Regions from separate parts of the Homo sapiens genome. Here region 1 is linked to region 2. The links come from fine-mapping of genetic effects on gene expression. A gene starts in region 2. The other region holds a variant in brackets. All regions are shown on one strand. Distances are from middle to middle.

The links. PIP is the estimated chance that this variant, and not a neighbour inherited with it, causes the effect.
Region 1: its variant is fine-mapped to the expression of JAGN1 in whole blood (INTERVAL, PIP 0.96).

What each region holds. Positions count from the first base shown.
Region 1 is chr3:9,916,053-9,924,457 of GRCh38, forward strand. IL17RC (interleukin 17 receptor C) reads left to right here and starts at 1,046. Exons shown (of 19, transcript NM_153460.4): 1 at 1,046-1,368; 2 at 1,661-1,682; 3 at 1,871-2,023; 4 at 2,283-2,357; 5 at 2,448-2,557; 6 at 4,439-4,550; 7 at 4,873-4,917; 8 at 7,829-7,968; 9 at 8,180-8,239. The coding sequence starts at 1,264. It overlaps IL17RE (interleukin 17 receptor E), which reads left to right. Exons shown (of 16, transcript NM_153480.2): 16 at 1-345. It also overlaps the pseudogene RNU6-882P. RefSeq lists enhancers at 299-838, 768-957. The variant GC/G (reference allele first, on the strand shown) is at 4,216.
Region 2 is chr3:9,886,892-9,900,353 of GRCh38, forward strand. It overlaps JAGN1 (jagunal vesicle mediated transporter 1), which reads left to right and starts at 3,719. Exons shown (of 2, transcript NM_032492.4): 1 at 3,719-3,920; 2 at 6,024-7,458. The coding sequence starts at 3,832. The coding sequence ends at 6,486. RefSeq lists a silencer at 11,014-11,308 and an enhancer at 11,014-11,308.

The sequences.
Region 1 (8,405 bases), 27 kb after region 2:
TTCCCACTTCCTCTCCAGAACTCCAGAAAGAGCAGTGTGCTTATGCTTCAGTCCAGGCTGGAGAGGTTGGGGCCGGGGTAGGGAGGCAGGAGCCATGTCAGTTCTGAAGGAGGGTGAGGCGGTGGGGGATTGCAGGGGGCGGCTGAGAGAAAACCTCCTTGGGGGCCAGGGATTCCCTTTCCCACTCTGAGGCTCTGGCCAGAGGGAGAGAGGACTCTGGACCTAGGAAAAGAGGCTTTTGGCTCCAGGTGGTCAGGACAGTGGGGGTTGGGGGTGGGGTGGGTGGGTGCTGGCGGTGGGGACCAAGATCCGGAAAGATGAATAAAGACAAACATGACAAACTAAGAAAACACAGTGTGCTTCTCTAGTGTGGCTGGGGAGCCTGCCTGGTGGGGTATGTGTCAGTGTGCTGGCCCAAATCCTCTGTGTCCATACCGCATGGCATCCGTCACATTCTTACAAGCAATGCCTCCAAAAGCAAAGGAGGATGGGGCAATCTCCTTGATCCCCCCCAGTGATTCTTACAAGAGGAGAGGAAAACAGAGGCTTCGCCAGATGGTGTGTCCATCATCACACAGCCGGCCCACAGCAACAGCACAGATGGGACCCCTGTCTGCCAGGCTCTGGGGTCCTGGGTTCCTTCTACTCCCCATACCGCATTTGAGCCAGGCAGTGGTGAAAAGCCCACTTTCTGGTGCCTTTTGTCCGTGCTTTTAGAGCTCCTGTCCCACAAAGGGTTACCGAGGCCCAAAGAGTGTCTGAAGGGACCGAGTGTGCCTAGTAAGGGGAGACTTAGTGGGCCCAGGACTCCAGGGCTGTGTCCTCCTTAGGGCTCCGGGGGTGAGTAAGAGCTCCCTTACTCAGCCGTGATGCATTCGCTGTCTTCTTCAGGGGCCCCTCCCAGCCAGGTGTCAGCAGAGGGAGAGGAGAGCCAAAGAAGGAGGAGGTGCGGCCACCACCCTAGTCCAAGGCTGCTGGCTCCCAAGCCTGGTGTTGGTGGGAGGGACAGAGAGGGGCGGGAACAGCCAGCAGCCTGCCGGGAGCCAAAACGAAAGCACTCCGTGCTGGAAGTAGGAGGAGAGTCAGGACTCCCAGGACAGAGAGTGCACAAACTACCCAGCACAGCCCCCTCCGCCCCCTCTGGAGGCTGAAGAGGGATTCCAGCCCCTGCCACCCACAGACACGGGCTGACTGGGGTGTCTGCCCCCCTTGGGGGGGGGCAGCACAGGGCCTCAGGCCTGGGTGCCACCTGGCACCTAGAAGATGCCTGTGCCCTGGTTCTTGCTGTCCTTGGCACTGGGCCGAAGCCCAGTGGTCCTTTCTCTGGAGAGGCTTGTGGGGCCTCAGGACGCTACCCACTGCTCTCCGGTGAGTCTGGAACCCTGGGGAGACGAGGAAAGGCTCAGGGTTCAGTTTTTGGCTCAGCAAAGCCTTAGCCTGGCTCCTGTCACTGCTGCCACTGCCAGAACTGCCCTGTCTGGTCTGTCTGGTGCTGATGGTAGAAGAGAAGAACGGGGAAGGGGCAAGAGCTGGGTCTGTCTTTCTCTGGGAGGGTCTGGGAATACGGAGCCCCAGAAAAAGGTAGGTGGAGGTCTTAGGCAGAGAACAGTGCCTAGATGGTGGGGGCACAAATTCTGACTCTCCTTTCTTTCCTTCCCAGGGCCTCTCCTGCCGCCTCTGGGGTAAGTATCCCTACTTTTAAAAAGAATTTCCCAGGTTGGCCGAAGGGAGCAGAGCTGTCCCAGGCCCATGCCCTCCATGCCCACCTCAGCCTAGGACAGCCAAGTTCTTTGGCTCTCTGGGTATGTCAGGTGCCACCAAATTCTGGGCTTGGAACAGCTTCAGCTCCCACCCGCTCCTCCACACACAGACAGTGACATACTCTGCCTGCCTGGGGACATCGTGCCTGCTCCGGGCCCCGTGCTGGCGCCTACGCACCTGCAGACAGAGCTGGTGCTGAGGTGCCAGAAGGAGACCGACTGTGACCTCTGTCTGCGTGTGGCTGTCCACTTGGCCGTGCATGGTGAGCAAGTCATCCTGTGACAGTGCATGTGTACACGTGAGTGTGTCTGGGGTGGGCATGAGGGCCAGGGGATCTCTCAAGCAGTGCTAGGCATCCTCAGTGTTCTCCTGGAGGACACCAGCAGAAGGACCCCCAGGCCAGTGTGGTCTCCCCAGCCCCTGCTTCCCAGCACTGGGCTTTCCAGAAGGAAGCCAACGCCAAAGCCAGCCAGCCCAGAGCAGGGGGCCTCACCCAGGGCCTTGCTCTTGGGTCCTTCTAGGGCACTGGGAAGAGCCTGAAGATGAGGAAAAGTTTGGAGGAGCAGCTGACTCAGGGGTGGAGGAGCCTAGGAATGGTGAGGAGAACCTGGCTGGCCCAACTGCCCCATGCCAAGGCCTGGCCTGCCGCTCCTGGGCCTGACTGACCCCTGCCCTGTTGCCCACAGCCTCTCTCCAGGCCCAAGTCGTGCTCTCCTTCCAGGCCTACCCTACTGCCCGCTGCGTCCTGCTGGAGGTGCAAGTGCCTGCTGCCCTTGTGCAGTTTGGTCAGTCTGTGGTATGCAAAATAATAATAATCACCTTCTAAACCTAAAATCTATAAAACTTTTTCACATGCATTATCTCTTTGAGGATTACAAAAGAATTAAATTTATTGAAACCCTTCAGTACCAGGCATTACAGCCAGTGTTTTACAGGTATCAACTTATTTAATTCTCACAACAGCCATGTGAGGTGGGACTATTCTTTTGATTCTGATCAGCGCTGTGGGCAAGTCCCTTCAGCCTGTTATGCCTCAGCTTTTATGTCTGTAAAATGGGGATGAGAATAGTTCTACTTCATATGCTTGACTGCGAGAAATCACCAAGCGTTTTTCAGGGTGCTTCTACTATTTTCCCCTCCTACCAGCAGTGTATGGGAGTCCTAGTTGCTTCCCATCTTTGCCAACACTTGATGGTGTAATTTTATTTTATTTTTAAATTAAATATATTTGAATTTTAAATATATGGGACCCTCCATGAATTTGCATGTCATCCTCAGGCACGGGCCTTGCTAATCTTTTCTGTATTGTTCCAGTTGTAGTATATGTGGTGCCAAAACAAGCATAAGTGTTGTAATTGTCATAATTTTTCTGCATATGTAGTGGTTTGCCATTGTGGTTTTAATTTGTATCTTCCAATGACTGATGAAGTTGAGCACTTTTTTCACATGCTTATTGGCTATTTGTGTAACTTCCTTGTGAAATATCTCTTAAAGTTTTTTTGTTTTTGTTTTTGTTTTTGTTTTTGCCACATAAAAAAACAATAGTTCTGGCCGGGCACAGTGGTTCACACCTGTAATCCCAGCACTTTGGGAGGCTGAGGCGGGCAGATCACGAAGTCAGGAGATTGAGACCATCCTGGCTAACACTGTGAAACCCTGCCTCCACTAAAAAAATACAAAAAATTAGCCAGGCATGGTGGTGGGCGCCTGTAGACCCAGCTACTCGGGAGGCAGAGGCAGGAGAATGGCGTGAACCCGGGAGGTGGAGCTTGCAGTGAGCCGAGATCGCGCCACTGCACTCCAGCCTGGGCGACAGAGCGAGATTCCGTCTCAAAAAAAAAGAATAGTCCCACCTCACATGACTGTTGTGAGAATTAAATTAAGTTGGTACCTGTAAAACACTGGATGTAATGCCTGGCACTGAATAATTTCAATAAATTTAATTCTTTTGTAATCCTCAAAACTACCTGATGAGGCATTATTAGTATCCTCATTTTCCAGATAGATAAAATGAGGCTTGGAGAGGGGAGGTCTGTGGGCTGGATGCACTTCTCTGTACTCTTGGACCAAAGAAAGAGTCCTACCATACATACCATGGTATACTTACCATGGTGTAAGTACCATGGTGCAGGGTGTTGGGGCTTCTCCCTGCCTTAGGAGGCCACATGTACCTGGAAGGTCTATTTCCACTGGGGTCAAATCACTCAAACCCTTTGACTTTCCCTCCAACCTCCAGCCCCCAGCCAATATCCTATCTGGAGAATTGTAGACTGGGAGAACATCTGCTTGGTCCATGTCACAAGCAGTTGTAAGGAACACTGAGGCACTGGGTTGAGTGTGAGAACCACTTCTGTGGGGAGGGGTGTGCCATATTGTGTTGGGGTGTCTCATCTCCTTAGCTTTGGCCAGGTGATCTAGCACAGCAGGGTGGGTGCAGGGATTTAAATGTCTAGG[GC/G]CTTTTCCCGCCCTGGTGACACTCTTACTGAGGACATTTGCTTTAGAATTGAGGCCCCTTGAAAGAAAGGTGAATAGTAGATTTCAGGCTATACAGTATAAATACAGTCATTAGTTGGGGGAGGAGGGCAGTGAGCAGAGTGGTCCCTGCAGATGATCCCACAGCCCTTGGCCTGGATTCTGAGCCCTGCACCGCCAGCCTTCCTCACCCCTCTCCTCACAGGGCTCTGTGGTATATGACTGCTTCGAGGCTGCCCTAGGGAGTGAGGTACGAATCTGGTCCTATACTCAGCCCAGGTACGAGAAGGAACTCAACCACACACAGCAGCTGCCTGGTAAGTGGACCCCCAAGTCCTGGCCCCCTAGCCTCTGTCCCCTCTGGCCATTCCCCCTCCTGATTTCACCCTCTTCTAGCTCCATCCACTCTCCGGCAGGGGTCTGAGCTGCTATCCTCCCCAGAGTCAGTCCCTCGGACCTTCTCTCTCTGGGTGATATGGCTTTCCAGCCCCTGGGGAAGGTTCTTTGAGCATTGGATAGATGTGGGTGGTATGTAGGGGATGGGGAGCCATTCCTAATGCCCCCCTGGGAGCCAAATTGCCCCCACTTCTTTCCTTGGCCCCCAGCCCCACTGGAGGCTCTTCTGTGATCTCTCCTCAGACTGCAGGGGGCTCGAAGTCTGGAACAGCATCCCGAGCTGCTGGGGTAGGGGCTAGGGCCAGTGGGCCGGGGGTAGGGAGGGGCAGGGTCTGGAGTATAAGAAACCCTTGGAGTCCACTTCAGATATGGGCTACCACATCTCAGAAGCTCACAGAACATATTCATTCATTCATTCATTCATTCATTTGTTCATAACACATTAATTGCAGTATCTGTGCTAAGCACTGGAAATAGAAAGATGAATCTTGGGTCAGGCTCAGTGGCTCATGCCTGTAATCCCAGAACTTTGGGAGGCCGAGGTAGAAGGATCACTTGAGCTCAAAAGTTCAAGACGAGCCTGGGCAACATGGCAAATCCCCGTCTCTACCAAAAATACAAAAATTAACAGGACATGGTGGTGTGCATTTGTGGTCCCAGCTACTCAGGAGGCTGAGGCAGGAGAATCACTTGAGCCTGGGAGGCAGGGGCTACAGTAAGCTGAGACTGCACCATTGCACACCAGCCTGGGTGACAGAGCAAGACTCCGTCTCAAAAAACAAAACAAAACAAAACAAAAACAAAAAACTTGAAATAAAAGCTAAGAAAGTCAAGGGTCTAACTTTTTTCCCACGTACTATTTGGATTTTGTTTTCGTTTTGTATTTTCTTTTTTATTGTGTATAACATACATACATAAAAGTATGTAAAGGGTACTGATTTTCTTTTTTTTTTTTTTTTTTGAGACAGAGTCTCGCTCTGTCGCTCAGGCTGGAGTGCAGTGGTGCAATCTCGGCTCACTGCAAGCTCCGCCTCCCAGGTTCACGCCATTCTCCTGCCTCAGCCTCCCGAGTAGCTGGGACTACAGGCACCCGCCACCACGCCTGGCTAATTTTTTTTTTTTTTTAGTAGAGACAGGGTTTCACCGTGTTAGCCAGGATGGTCTTGATCTCCTGACCTTGTGATCCGCCTGCCTCAGCCTCCCAAAGTGCTGGGATTACAGGCGTGAGCCACCACGCCCAGCCAAAGGGTACTGATTTCCATGTCCAGTTCTTTTTTTTTTTTTTTTTTTTGGCGGAATCTTGCTCTGTCGCCTAGGCTGGACTGCAGTGGTGTGATCTCAGCTCACTGCAACCTCTGCCTTCTGGGTTCAAGCGATTCTCCTGCCTCAGCCTCCCAAGCAGCTGGGATTACAGACGTGCACCACCACGCACAGCTAATTTTTGTATTTTTAGTAGACATGGAGTTTCACCATGCTGGCCAGGCTGGTCTTGAACTCCTGACCTCGTGATCCTCCCACCTCGGCCTCCCAAAGTGCTGGGATTACAGGCATGAGCCGCCACGTCCGGCCAATTTGTTTTTATATATGTATACACTTGCATAACTAGCACCCAGATCAATACATAAATACTGTGAATACATCACATACTGTGATGTTTTCTGAACTACTAAATGTTTTCAACTTCATTTTCTTTTTGCCTTCTTAAAATTAAAGTTGGCCTGCCTCTTTGGCAACTCATTAAAGACTATTCAACACCAGAGTTTTGAAAACACAGATGTGTATATCATGGATTTCATTTCTTCCTTCATTAAGTAGACATTGATTCATTTATTCAACAGATATTTATTAATTTCTGTGTACCAGGCAAATCCCTGGACACTGGAAATATTAATAAATCAATAAATGAAGATGACAAAAAACCCGACCCCACGGAGCTGGTGTCAGGGTCAGGGTGGGGGTGAGGAAGGACACAACAAACACATGGAGATGTGAAGAATGCAGTAAGTTAGACAGTGATTAGCACTAAGGAGAACATTTGTGGAAGGGCTGGGGAAGGTTGGGAGTTGTAGAGGTCAGGGATGGTCTCATTCTGGTGAGCAGAGACCTGAAAGAGGTGAGGGAGGAGCCATATATTTGAGGGAAGAGAGAATAGCCAGCAAAAAGGGCCTGGGGTGGGAGTATGTCAGGGGTGTTTAAGAAATAGTAAGGAGGGGGCCGGGCGCGGTGGCTCACGCCTGTAATCCCAGCACTTTGGGAGGCCGAGGCTGGCGGATCACGAGGTCAGGAGATCGAGACCATCCTGGCTAACACGGTGAAACCCCATCTCTACAAAAAATACAAAAAAATCAGCTGGGCATGGTGGCAGGCGCCTGTAGTCCCAGCTACTCGGGAGCCTGAGGCAGGAGAATGGCTTGAACCCCAGGAGGCAGAGCTTGCAGTGAGCCGAGATCACACCACTGCACTCCAGCCTGGGCGACAGAGCCAGACTCCATCTCAAAAAAAAAAAAAGGAAAAAAAAAAGAGAGAGAAACAGTAAGGAGGTCCTTAATAACTCTGCAGCAGAGTTATTAAGGACACAAATGCCATAGGCTGTGCGCGATGGCTCACGTCTGCAATCCCAGCACTTTGGGGAAGCTGAGGCAGGAGGATTGCTTGAGGTTAGGAGCTCAAGACCAGCCTGGCCAACATGAGCGAAATCCCATCTCTACTAAAAATACAAAAACTAGCCGGGGGTGGTGACACACGCCTGTAATCCCAGCTACTCGGGTGGCTGAGGCAAGAGAATCGCTTGAACCCAGGAGGTGGAGGTTGCAGTGAGCTATCGTGCCAATGCACTCCAGCCTGGGCAACAGAGCAAGACTCCCTCTCAAAAAAAAAAAAGGACACAAGTATCAAGAGGTAAGGTCAGAAAGGTCACAGTTCTGAACAGAGGAAAATGACTTGTTTTAAAGAGGTTACAAGATCTTTCTGCAGAGGGAGAAGCAGGGAGAATAGCTCTTCTCCGACCACACACTAGGGTCTCCACGGGCTTGGCTTTGGGCAGCTGCTAGGAGCAAAGTCTGGTCTGAAATGATGACACACGCTCTGCCCTCCGAGAGCCTCCCAGTCTAGGGGGTTTGAAGGAAACTCCAAAGGGTCAGTCGGGGATGCAGAAGAGGTGAGGAAGTCTAAGCTGCGCTCTCTTTGCCTCTCCCACCAGCCCTGCCCTGGCTCAACGTGTCAGCAGATGGTGACAACGTGCATCTGGTTCTGAATGTCTCTGAGGAGCAGCACTTCGGCCTCTCCCTGTACTGGAATCAGGTCCAGGGCCCCCCAAAACCCCGGTGGCACAAAAACCTGGTGAGGCCTCCCCCTTCCCAAGTCCATTCCCACTGTAGGCCGATGCCTGTGCAAAGGACGCAGTGCCATATCAGAGAGGATCCTTGAAGAGGACTCACCCCAAGCAAGGGAAAATTGGTGGGGGAACTTCTGCCTTCCTGGTTTCCTTGACTTTGGCCTCCTCCTCTTCCTCCTTATCTTCTCCAACCTCCTTCCTTTATTTGTTCCACAGACTGGACCGCAGATCATTACCTTGAACCACACAGACCTGGTTCCCTGCCTCTGTATTCAGGTAGGAGCAGAGTCTAGCTGGGTGCCAGAAGAGGAGTGGGAAGATGATGATGGGGGTGATCCCTGCCTTCCTGGTCTCACCATTCTTCAAACCCTTCATTGAGGTGGAGACTGTGGCTCCCTGGGGTGGCTGGCCCTCCCTTGACCCTTGCTGTCCTATGCCTTCT
Region 2 (13,462 bases):
GATCCTCCATCTCAGCCTCCTGAGTAGCTGAGACTACAGACATATGCCATCCTGCCTGGCTAATTTTATTTTTAGAGATAGGTTCTTGCTATGTCGCCGAGGCTGATCTCGAGTTCCTGGACTCAAGCAATCCTCCTGCCTCAGCCTCCCAAAGTGCTGGGATTATAGGCATGAGCCACCATGCTCAGGGTCTCATCATGTTGCCCAGGCTGGCCTCAAACTCCTGAACTCAAGCAATCTTCCCACCTCAGCCTCATGAGTAGCTGGGACTACAGGTACATGCCGCCGCAGCCAGCTTATTGTTTGGCTTTTGAACCATGTAAATGCATTACCTAGTCAACATTTTAAATTAAAAAGATATTCTTAGGCCCAACTTTGGGGAATGATTCATTTGGGTAAGGGTGGGGCCCAGAAATCTGTGTTTTTAACAAGCATCTTGGATGAGTCTATCACAGATGGTTCTAGACCAGGCTTCACAGACAGCAAAAACGATGAGAACTAATGTGGAAGCAGGTGATCCTTGGTGCAGTAAGATGGGTCCCAAAGTGTCACCAGGATTTCCACAGGGCAAAGAAAGACATTCTAGAGAGCCTGGGGGGAGGTGACAAATATTCCTGGCCCATTTCCCCAGAGGTCCCGAACCCTCTTAGTTATCCCTCAGTGGGTCCTGAACCGTCATCCCTTAAACAGGACAGTAACAGATCTGGTAGTAAAAATCCTGCAGCCCTAGGGCCACTTTGGTCTGAGTTCTTATAGTGCAATTGCTGCGTGATCCTGGGCAAGTCACTTCCCCTTTCTGAGCCTTAATTTTCCCTTGTGTAAGATAATGATAACAAAAGTAATTATCTCCAAGGGTATTGGAAAAAGAGAATGAGTTCACGTGTGTGAATATGCCTGGCATAGAGTAGGTACTCAATAAATGTTGCTGATTTCTTTTCTCTCACTCTGTCGCCCAGGCTGGAGTGCAACAGTATGATCTCTGCTCACTGCAACCTCCGTCCCCCAGGTTCAAGCGATTCTCCTGCCTCAGCCTCCCGAGTAGCTGGGACTACAGGCACGTACCACCACGCCTGGCTAATTTTTTGTATTTTTAGTAGAGACGGGGTTTCACCGTGTTAGCCAGGCTGGTCTCGATCTCCTGACCTTGTGATCTGCCCGCCTCAGCCTCCCAAAGTGTTGGGATTACAGGCGTGAGCCACTGCACCCAGCCTTTTTTCTTATTTTTTTAAAATTTGAGACAGGGTCTCACTCTGTTGCTCAGGCTGGAGTGCAGTGGTGTGATCTCAGGTCACTGCAACCTTCGCCTCCCGGGTTCAAGGGATTCTCCTGCCTCGGCTTCCCAAGTAGCTGGGACTACAGGCATGCGCTACCACACCCTGATAATGTTTGTATTTCTTTTGGTAGAGACAGGGTTTCACCATGTTGACCAGGCTAGTCTTGAACTCCTGACCTCAAGTGATCCACTGCCTCGGCCTCCCAAAGTGCTGGGATTACAGGTGTGAGCCGTGCCCGGCCAATGTTGCTGATTTCTTGCTTGCCTTTCTCAGATCCCAGCCACACAGACTCCCTTCCTAGTGTGAGCCCCTTGCTGGTCATATGTGCTCTTGTTACCCACCTACAGATGTTAAATCCCAAGGAACTCAAATCTGTTCCTCTCTGTCCATTGCCACCTCCTAGCCCAAGCCACCCCTAGGATTGCCTGAATTACTGCAGTAGCCTTCAAGTGATTCCTCTGCTTCACCCTTGGCCCCTGCAAGCCATTCTCTACACAGCAACTAGATCTATCTTTATTTATTTATTTACAGACAGTGTCTTACTCTGTTGCCCAGAATGGAATGCAGTGGCATAATCATGGCTCACTGTAACCTTGAACTCCTGGTCTCAAATGATTCTCCCACCTCATCCTCCCGAGTAGCCTGGACTACAGGCACGCACCACCATGCCAGTTAATATTATTTTATTTTTTATTTTTGTAGAGACGGGAGTCTCACTATGTTGCCCAGGCTGATCTCCTGCCTTGGCCTCCCAAAGTGCTGAGATTACAGGCTTGAGGCACTGTGCCCCCACCTAGACCTATCTTTTAAAAATGCAAAACTGTGTCATTTTCCTGGTTAAACCTTTTAGTGGTTCCCCAAACCCCCTGGGATAAAGACTTAACTCTTTACTGAACCCTCCAAATGCTCCAGTCACTCTTAAGTTTCTCAGTTCTTTGAAGAGCCAAGTGCTCTCTGGATTTGGGGCCTTCACACATGCTGTTCCCTCTGCCTGAAAAGCTCTTCCGCTCCCCACCTCTTTAGCCAATTCCCACTCAGGCTTCAGACCTCAGCTCAATTGCTGCCACTCCAGAGAGACTTTCCTAACCCTCCAGGTCAGGGAGAGAGGCCTCATTTTTCCTCCCTCAGCCTCCTGTGTTTTCTTGAATTTCTTAGCTTCATGGGTACAAGTTCTTCCCCCGACTGGGCTGGGATCCCTCAGGGGAAATGGACCATGTTTATTTCTGCGTCCCCAGGTCATAGCAGAGCATCCTGGTGCATGGAAGATGCTCACTATACATGCTTTTTTCTTTCTTTTTTTCTTTATTCGGATAATATAACTTCTTTCTTTAAAGTTTCGCTTAGTATTTTGTTGTGGTAAAATGCACATAACATAAAACTTACTATGTTAATCATTTTTAAGTGTACAGTTTCCGTGGCATTAAGCACACACATATAGTTGTGCAATCAGTACCACCATCCATCTCCAGAACTTTTTTCATCTTCCCGAACTGAAGCTCTGTACCCATTAAACACTAGCTCCCCATTCTCTGTCCACCCCTCGAGCTTCTGGCAATGGTCATTCTACTTTGTCTCTACAGATAAAGTTTATTTGGAAATAATTTTTCTTTCATGGCCTTGACATTTTTGAAGAGTACAGTCCAGCTCTCTTCTAGACTGTCCCTCCGTCTGGATTTATGTCATTTCTTCATGATTAGATTCAGTTAGGTATTTTTGGCAGAAACATCATAGAAGTGATGCTGTGTCCTCAGTCTATTAAAAGAGGCACAAGATATCAGTTTATCTCATTATTGATCAAATTAACTGACTATATGTTTAAGGGAGACAAGCCAGATTTCCTCACTGAGAGATTCCCTGTTTCTCTTTGCAATAATTAAATGTGAGAAACTTATTTTGAGACAAAGTCTCACTCTGCACTCTGTCCCCCAGGCTGGAGTGCATTGGCACAATCTCGACTTACTGCAACCTCTGCCTCCCTGGTTCAAGCGATTCTCCTGCCTCAGCCACCCAAGTAGCTGGGGTCACAGGAACCCACCACACCTGGCTAATTTTTGTATTTTTAGTAGAGACGGGATTTCACCATGTTGCCCAGGCTGGTCTTGAACTCCTGACATCAAGTGATCCACCCACCTCGGCCTCCCAAAGTGCTGGGATTAAAGGTGTGAGGCTGTGTGAATGATGTGTGCTCCAGGGAAAGTCATAGAATATATCAGTTTCCCCCTCTGTAAAGTGTGGACAGAAGTATCCTAACTGATATTACAGCTTAAGAAAGTAAAAGTGTTCAAGCGGCCTCTGGGCGCCAGCAAAAGAGGCTGGGGATTAATTTCCTGCGCGCTCCACAAGAGGCGGGGCTGGGCGGGGCGGGGGCGAGAGGGAACGAGGGCGCCTGCGCGGAGAGGAGTGACCATAGAGTCGGTCCTCCAGAGACAGAGGGGCCGGAAGTTCTCTTCACGGAGCCGCGCGGCTGCGGGGGCGCAAATAGGGTCAGTGGGCCGCTTGGCGGTGTCGTTGCGGTACCAGGTCCGCGTGAGGGGTTCGGGGGTTCTGGGCAGGCACAATGGCGTCTCGAGCAGGCCCGCGAGCGGCCGGCACCGACGGCAGCGACTTTCAGCACCGGGAGCGCGTCGCCATGCACTACCAGATGAGGTATGAAGTGAGGCGAGGAGCACGGAGGCTTTCTCCCCCGCTGGAGCCTGCGGGGCTTGGGGAGCGACGCCGGCCCGGCCTCAGGGTCTTGCTCCCCAGCCAGCCCCCGCTCACCTGCCAAGTCCCCTCCTCCCGTGACGGCTTCGGGCCTGTCCCCCATCCTGGAAAGCCCCGTGGCCCCCGCGAGCTCCACCCCTTGTTCCGCCCGGTGCCTTGAGGGGATCCAGCCCCGCGTGGGCTCCCGCCCTGCGTGGGCTCCCGAGTCACGTCGATGCTGGCCCCGCTGTATCACCTTCGAAACCGAATTTCTAATTTGAGCCTCAGCTTCCTCATCTGTAGAGGGAGAGAATAATCTGCCTTTTAGGTTTTGGTGAAAGATTAATCAGTAATTCGTGTAAAGAAAGTAGCATAAGGCCTACCACGTAATATATGGTAGGTGTTATATTTTGGGCCGTTTGGGGGGATATAGACAGTAAAAGGCAGCCTTTCCTAAGGACGCCTTGCCTAAAATGAATTTTATAAACACTCCCACGTAAGGGGTATTTCTACATTCAATTACTAGTTCGACAAATACTGAGCTTCCAAACATCATACACTGCTAGACACTAGGTTATAATAGTGAGCAAAAGCAGACGTGGTCTTTGTATACATGTTATACCTTCAATAAACAATTTTATTAAAGAAAAAAAAAACTGTTCCCTGCCTTCATGGAGCTTGAAGTCTAGAGATGACTGTTTTTTTTTTCCAACCTTTCCACATTTTCTACAATAAATATTTTTAAATAAAAATTTTAAAATTTTTACTTCCTTAAATCCATTGATCTCTCCCAGAATGTTCTTCACATCTCTCTCTCCAGAGTTTTAAAGAATGACAAGCTCTTTGAACTCTCATTTGTTTCACATCTCTAGGCCCCGGCTGAAAGGGCCCTCACAACTTAAGCAGGTGTTTTCATGCCAGCCCAGAGTAGAAACATTGCCTTTAGGGATATGAGGAGGATACGTTTGGGACGTGAGAGAATTAGAAGAATAAGATAAGTATGTACTTCTTTTGGATGAAAAAATCTAGCTGGAGAAGTATGGGCGGCCTGAGTACGTTTCCTCTCTGCCAATACCTTCTCCCGCCAGACTTTAATCCTATGGTGCAGTCAGCGTCCTCTTGCTAAACACAGCTCTGAGCTACCCTTCTGCCTTTATTATTATTATTAATTTATTTATTTATTTTTGAGACGGAGTCACGGTCTGTCGCCCAGGCTGGAGTGCAGTGGCGCGATCTCAGCTCACTTGTAAGCTCCGCCTCCCGGGTTCACGCCATTCTCAGCCTCAGCCTCCCGAGTAGCTGGGACTACAGGCGCCCGCCACCACGTGCTGCTAATTTTTTTGTATTTTTAGTAGAGACAGGGTTTCACCGTGTCAGCCAGGATGGTCTCGATCTCCTGACCTCGTGATCTGCCCGCCTCGGCCTCCCAAAGTGCTGGGATTACAGGCGTGAGCCACCGCGCCCAGCCCTGCCTTTTTATTAGTAGTATTGTTGTTGTTTTTTTTTTTTATGGAGATGGGGTCTCATTTTGTTGCCAGGCTGGTCTCGAACTCCTGGGCTCAAGCAGTCCTCCTGCTTCAGCCTACCAAAGTGCTTGGATTAGAGTTGTGAGCCCAGCCTCTTCTACTTTTAACTCTCATAGTCTTTGTGATTCATATCCCACTACCCCTCTCCCCCTAACAATATGTTCCTGCCACACATAACCACTTGCTTTCCTGGAACACAAATACTTGGGCCTTTTTGTCTGCATGCTCCTGCATGGGATGCCCATCTTCACTCATTCCTGAGCCTAGTTCAGATATCACCTGCCTCTAGATAGCCATCTCTGACATTCCATGCCAGGCAGAGTTGATTCCTCCTTCCTGTGATCCCATATATCTGGGAACATATATTTACTAGAACTTTTTCACTTCATTTTCTAATTACTTTTTCCTCCTCTGTTCTTTGTGTCCGGCTTCTAGGCTGTTTTATTCAAATTTGTATCCCAGTGTCCAGTACAGTTGTCTGGCATATAGTTGGTGGTAAGAAAAATTTGAAAGATACTTCTCCCTCTGCTCTGCCCCACAGTGTGACTCTCAAGTATGAAATCAAGAAGCTGATCTACGTACATCTGGTCATATGGCTGCTGCTGGTTGCTAAGATGAGCGTGGGACACCTGAGGCTCTTGTCACATGATCAGGTGGCCATGCCCTATCAGTGGGAATACCCGTATTTGCTGAGCATTTTGCCCTCTCTCTTGGGCCTTCTCTCCTTTCCCCGCAACAACATTAGCTACCTGGTGCTCTCCATGATCAGCATGGGACTCTTTTCCATCGCTCCACTCATTTATGGCAGCATGGAGATGTTCCCTGCTGCACAGCAGCTCTACCGCCATGGCAAGGCCTACCGTTTCCTCTTTGGTTTTTCTGCCGTTTCCATCATGTACCTGGTGTTGGTGTTGGCAGTGCAAGTGCATGCCTGGCAGTTGTACTACAGCAAGAAGCTCCTAGACTCTTGGTTCACCAGCACACAGGAGAAGAAGCATAAATGAAGCCTCTTTGGGGTGAAGCCTGGACATCCCATCGAATGAAAGGACACTAGTACAGCGGTTCCAAAATCCCTTCTGGTGATTTTAGCAGCTGTGATGTTGGTACCTGGTGCAGACCAGGCCAAAGTTCTGGAAAGCTCCTTTTGCCATCTGCTGAGGTGGCAAAACTATAATTTATTCCTGGTTGGCTAGAACTGGGTGACCAACAGCTATGAAACAAATTTCAGCTGTTTGAAGTTGAACTTTGAGGTTTTTCTTTAAGAATGAGCTTCGTCCTTGCCTCTACTCGGTCATTCTCCCCATTTCCATCCATTACCCCTTAGCCATTGAGACTAAAGGAAATAGGGAATAAATCAAATTACTTCATCTCTAGGTCACGGGTCAGGAAACATTTGGGCAGCTGCTCCCTTGGCAGGCTGTGGTCTCCTCTGCAAAGCATTTTAATTAAAAACCTCAATAAAGATGGCCCTGCCCACACTGTGCCTTGTGTTTGGGGCTTGATAGAGTGTGAAAGGTGTGTTGCTTGAAAGGTGTGGCCTTAGACACTAGGAGATGATGGGTAGAAGCTCCTTGAGAAACCTAGCAGTGGCCATAGAGAAGTAGACTGGGTATGGGGAACCTAAGTCATAGTTGTAACCTACAGCTGATTGGTAAGAACTATGGGCCAGACATTTAATCTCTCCATCTATGAAATAGTCCATTCTCATTTATCTACCTTAGGTTATGGGCTCTTCTTTTAGTTGGATATTCACATTTATCTTTCAGTGTTAACTGGGTATCAGTTATGAGTCTACTACTGTATAATGGCATCCAAAAGAATTTTAAAGTACCTCGGTTTATAGGGATTTACAATTCAGTAGAAACTTGTTATTCATGTGAAACAGTGAACATAATATCTAATGATGTGGAGCAAGTACATTAAAAACAGGAAGGAAGAGATCTGTGATTAAACTAAAGGCCCTTTCACACCTAAAATTCTGGCAGTATTTATTGCATGAAAGATAATGTGTCTCTTTGCACTTGATTTTATTGTCTCTGGATGATGCCCAGATCTGTAACTGCAGAGCTCTGCCCTCTCCAGAGATGTAGTCATTATTTTGTTCTAGAAACATTGTGTATGTAGTTAGTCATTACTGAGTCACTTTTTTTTTTTTTTTTTTTTTAATTGAGACGGAGTCTTGCTCTGTCGCCCAGGCTGGAGTGCAGTGGCACGATCTCGGCTCACTGCAAGCTCTGCCTCCCGGGTTCACACCATTCTGCCTCAACCTCCCAAGTAGCTGGGACTACAGGTGCCCACCACCACGCCCGGCTAATTTTTGTATTTTTAGTAGAGACGGGGTTTCATCGTGTTAGCTAGGATGCTCTCGATCTCCTGACCTCATGATCCGCCCTCCTCAACCTCCCAAAGTGCTGGGATTACAGGCGTAAGCCACCGTGCCTGGCCTTTTTTTTTTTTTTTTTTTTTTTTTTTAAAGGCAGTGTTTCATTTCCCTCACCCAGGCTGGAATGCAGTAGCGCCATCTTGGCTCGCCTCTACCTACCAGGCTCAAGTGATTCTCCTGCCTCAGCCTCTCAAAGTGCTTGTGTTACAGGTGTGAGCCATCGCGCCTGGCTGGCAGTACTTACAACTCTAAAACCTCTTCCTCTAGATGTCCTAATTATCATCTCAAAATAAGTATGTCCCAAACAGACCTTTGTGTTTCTGCCTCATACCCATTCCTCTTCCTGCATCCCTTTGTTCAAGTGAGTATATACCAAGAGTACAGCTCTGGATTATCTGTTCCATGATCATTAAGTCCCTACTATGATCTTTGTTGCAACTTAAATGCCTTAAGCTCTGAGGTTTCCAAAGTGGTCCCAATCCACCAGTCCTGCATTATCTCCCAATACCCCTAGTCTCATGCTGTCTTAGTCAACTAAACCTCTTATGGATCCCCATGTAGGTTTCGTGGTTTCCCAGTTTCCTTTGCTTAAAAATTTCCCTTTTCTATTTTTATACTGCTTTATTAATTATCCTTTAAGGCCCAGTTAATATGGCAATTCTTGAGCTTTCTGGTTCCTTCAATTCAAGGAACATGAATTCCTTCTCTGAGTTCTTATTTTACTGCTTTTAGGTGCTGCACAGGAGGTGTGAAAAACATGCAATTCTTTTTATTTATTTTTTTTATTTTTATTTTTTTTGAGACAAGGTCTTACTCTGTCGCCCAGGCTGGAGTGCAGTGGCATGATCTTGGCTCACTACAACCTCCGCCTCCCGGGTTCAAGCGATTCTCTTGCCTCAGCCTCCCTAGTAGCTGGGATTACAGGCGCCTGCCGCCGCGCCCGGCCTAATTTTTTTTTTTTTTAAACAGAGTCTTGCCCTGTTCCCTAGGCTGAAGTGCAGTGGCTCGATCTGGGCTCATTGCAGCTTTCCCTCCCAGGTTCAAGCGATTCTCCTGACTCAGCCTCCTGAGTAGCTGGGATTACAGGCATGTGACACTATGCCTGGCTAATTTTTGTATTCTTAATAGAGACAGGGTCTCACTATGTTGGCCAGACTGGTCTTGAACTCCTGACCTCAGATGATCATCCTGCTTTGGCCTCCCAAAGTGCTGGGATTACAGATGTGAGTTACTGTGCCCAGCCTCACATGGAATTATTGACAGGATTATTGTAAACTAAAGTCGGGGTGTATTTCACAGAGGATAGAACCAAACTGAAGTAGAGAGAAAATTTGGAGAGCAGTAGTAGATGGAAATGTATGGATAATGGAGTTAGTATGTGCACCAGACACAGATTGCTCGTTTTTAAAGAATTGGGATGCAAATAGTTTGAAATTTCTTTGGTTATTGGAATGGCACTTTATGGACTTAGAGTACTATCAAAGACCCATTATGAAAATTATTGTCAACAATGTAAACAAACCAAAACCATTTGGTTTATGTTAGTTTTCTGCTTGTTAGGTTGTCGGAATTTTGCTTTTGTGGACCTTTCCTATCACCTTTTCCTGCCTCATGGTTGTAGTGTTCCAGAAGCAAACAAGATTCCCTTGTTGAATCTTGATTTAGTAGAAAGAACATTATTTGAATCAGAAGATATGTTCAAGTACCAATGCACCTACCAATTATAGGACTAAAATCAACCCTCCCTATTTCACAGATTGTTCTAAAGATCAAATAATGTGGCTGGGCGCAGTGGCTCATACCTGTAATCTCAGCACTTTGGGAGGCCGAGGCAGGCGAATCACCTGAGGTCAGGAGTTTGAGACCAGTCTAGCCAACATGGTGAAACCCCGTCTCCACTAAAAATACAAATGGGCATGGTGGTGGGTGCCTGTACTTCCAGCTACTTGGGATGGTGTCCTAAGAGGATGGGCCAGAAGACCTGGGTTCCCCTCCCTGCCAATTATTCCTCTCTGAGCCTCGCTTTTCTCCTCTGGAGACTCACCGCTATGTCTTCCTGGCCTCTTCTGCCAGAACACACTACTTGGGGAGATCAGAGGGTTTCTGGACCCTGTAGTTCACAGAAGGTACTAAACTTAGCAGTGTGTTCACAGAAGGTACTAAACTTGGGAGGCTGGGGCAGGAGAATCGCTTGAACCCAGGAGGCTAAGGTTGTGGTGAGCCGAGATCGCGCCACTGCACTCCAGCCTGAGTGACACAATGAGACTCTGTCTCAAAAAAAAAAAAAGTTGAAATATTGTGAAACTGCTTTATGAACTATGTATCATTATATAAATATGAAAGATGGTTATTTCCTGATCTTTACAGGAGGAGAGAATGTAGGAGTTGAAGGGACTATTAGAGATAATCCAGGCCATGAGAAAGGCAATGTGGTATAATGGAATGAACAGTGTTTTTTGTTTTGTTTTGTTTTGTTTTGTTTTTGAGACTCACTCTGTCGCCTAGGCTGCAGTGCAGTGGTGCAATCTCAGCTCACTGCAACCTTTGCTCACACCCGGTTAATTTTTGTATTTTTGTAGAGACAGGGTTTCACCATGTTGGCCAGGTCTCGAACTCCTGACCTCAAGTGATCTACCCACCTCGGCCTCCCAAAGTGCTAGGATTACAGGCATGAGCCACCATGCCCAGCCAACAGTTTCTTACATTAGACAGACATAGGTGGGAATTCCAGCCAGGCATTTTACTAACTTTTGCCTTGTGCAAGATACCTGAGCCTCTGTTCTTGATCTGACACATGGGCATCATTTTAGCTACCCCCAGGATTGTTGGGAGGCTTAGATAATATGTATGGACAGGCTACATAGTAGGGGTTTAATAAGTAACAGAATGCCTTCCCTTGTTGAGCAGTGTTGGCTTCCTCGCTGAGATTGGGAGTCTCTACCTCTCAGCAATAATTTCTTGCCTCAGAATTCTGGAGGTTGATCCTTCTGGAAGAGCAGATGTAAAGAAGGGATACTCGCCCACTGTTGGTGTACATTGATCTAATTGGTGGGCCTTCCTGCCCAGGGTTCCCTATCAGTGAGCAGAGTTGCCCCAGTAGACGTTAGGAATTGGCCATTACAGGAAGAACCTGGAGCTACTGTTCCATGGTCTGACCAGAGTTCATGCACAGATAAGGCGGTGACAAGAAAAATGGCTGCCCAAGGTCCCTACAGTGCACTCTAAGCATGTGCAGGGGCCTGCCAGGACTTCCTGAGCTCCTGGCTTTGTTCCCAAGTAAAGGCTATTAATCATTAATCATGAAGTCTTGGTCAGCTCATTTTGACACAAACCACAGATGAGACAGGCCTTAGCCACCTGCCAAGAAGACAGGGCCTCTGTGCTGAAGCCCTACAACACACCTTTGTTGCTTTACTCCAATTGGCCACCTCCTATTCCAGCCACAGTTACTCCTCCCTTGTTGACACTTGCCAAACAATCCCAACTCTCCTACAAGTCTAACCACTGGTAACATTATTATAAGATCTACTTTCCTTTCTTTCCAACACTTTCATTTCTTTCTTTACATTGTTAACCCTGCCAATTGTATCACACTGCTAAGTTTAGTAACTTCTGTGAACTACAGGGTCCAGAAACCCTCTGATCTCCCCAAGTAGTGTGTTCTGGCAGAAAAGGCCAGGAAGACATAGCGGTGAGTCTCCAGAGGAGAAAAGCGAGGCTCAGAGAGGAAAAATTGGCAGGGAGGGGAACCCAGGTCTTCTGGCCCATCCTCTTAGGACACCATCTCCTAGGCCTCATATTTCTGAAGTTCTCACAGTGCTGCGGTGTTTAGCGCTCTGATCTATTGGCAAGCGGACTGGTAGACTTGGCAGCCCTTTTCCCCCTCTGACTCCAGGGAGAGTACCTGCATGCCTTCTGGGGGCTTCCCCCAGCTCAGGTGTGAAGTGTGATTGTGTGTGTGTGCATGTGTGTGTATGAGACAGAGAAAGGGGATGTGTGTGCACAAGGTGCATGTCAGCAGCACTCACAGGCTTCCTGCCAGCTCTGGAAGGGACATTTTTTGCCCCTCACAGTGTCCTCTTGCAGGTAGGATGCCTGGAGAGACGGGAGCAGGTGGGGAGGGTCAGAGGAATGGCTTTTCCAATCTCACTCAGACCTAAAACTCATTCTGGCTTTACTTTACTGTGACGCAAGCTGCCTGAGCTGGCCAGGCACCAAATAGGAGGGGGCAATGTGGGGTGAGGGCAAGGGTGGGGAGGAACTCAGAGCGTAAGCGTAGGAGAGAGATCAGCAAGTGAGGGGCTGACTTCAGCTCTTAGGTGTGTGTGCTTGGACTTTACCTAATCTTCCTGAGTGTTTTGCAGTCTGTAAAATGGGGTAATAAGACTGTGAACTCAAGGGTTGTAGTACAAATAAAATAAACTGGGCAAAATGCATGACTCAGAGCCTGATAGTAGGATTTCAGCAAATGTTGATCCCATCCCTCCCCTTCCTTAGGTTGTGCCAGAATTCACCCCTGTGCTTCTTACCTTAAATACTTTTTGGAACAGTCTCTACAATAAATAAGTAAACCAGCAAGACAATAAATAAAATGCACACGTCCTTTTCTTTTTCCCCCTTTCTTCCTCACCTTTATTCCTTTTACTTTTCCAGCGGGTCCTGGAATGCTGTTTTTCTTCCCTTTCTTCCCTCTTTCCCTCTCTTCTCTCCTCCCATCCTCCTTCCCTCCCTTCCTCTCTTCCTCCGTCCCTTCCTCCCTCCCTCCCTTCTTTCCTCCCTTCCTCCTTCCCTCCCTGCTGCCTTCTCTCCCTCCCTCCTTTCTTCCCTCCCTCCCTTCTTTCCTTCCTTCCTTTTTTTCCCTTCCTCTCTTCCTTCTTATCTCCATTTCTTTTCTGCTTCTCCTCCCATACCTTAACCAGAAGCAATTAACCAATATTTTCTCTGTGAGAGATCAGAAGATAAGGGTAAAGAAGAAGGATTGTTTTGGAATAGAACCAAGTTTCTCACTTCATGCCTCCAGCATTAGAAAACTCATTATTTGGGCCGGGCGCAGTGGCTCACGCCTGTAATCCCAGCACTTTGGGAGGCCGAGGTGGGCGGATCACAAGGTCAGCAGATTGAGACCATCCTGGCTAACACGGTGAAACCCCCTCTCTACTAAAAACGCAAAAAATTAGCCGGGTGAGGTGGCGGGTGCCTGTAGTCCCAGCTGCTCGGGAGGCTGAGGCAAGAGAATGGCGTGAACCTGGGAGGCGGAGCTTGCAGTGAGCCGAGATCGCACCACTGCACTCCAGCCTGGGCAACAGAGCAAGACTCCGTCTCAAAAAAAAAAAAAGAAAACTCATTATTGGCCAGACACAGTGGCTCACACCTGTAATCCTAGCACCTTGGGAAGCTGAGGCAGGATAACTGCTAGAGGCCAGGAGTTTGAGACCAGCTTGAGCACCATAGCCAGACCCTATATGTAGCCAGGCAAAATGGTGTGTGCCTGTGAAGGGAGGATTCACTTGAGTCCAGGAGGTTGAGGCTGCAGTAAGTGGTGATTGCGCCATTGTCCTCCAGCTTGGGTGATAGAGTGAGACTCTGTCTCAAAAAAA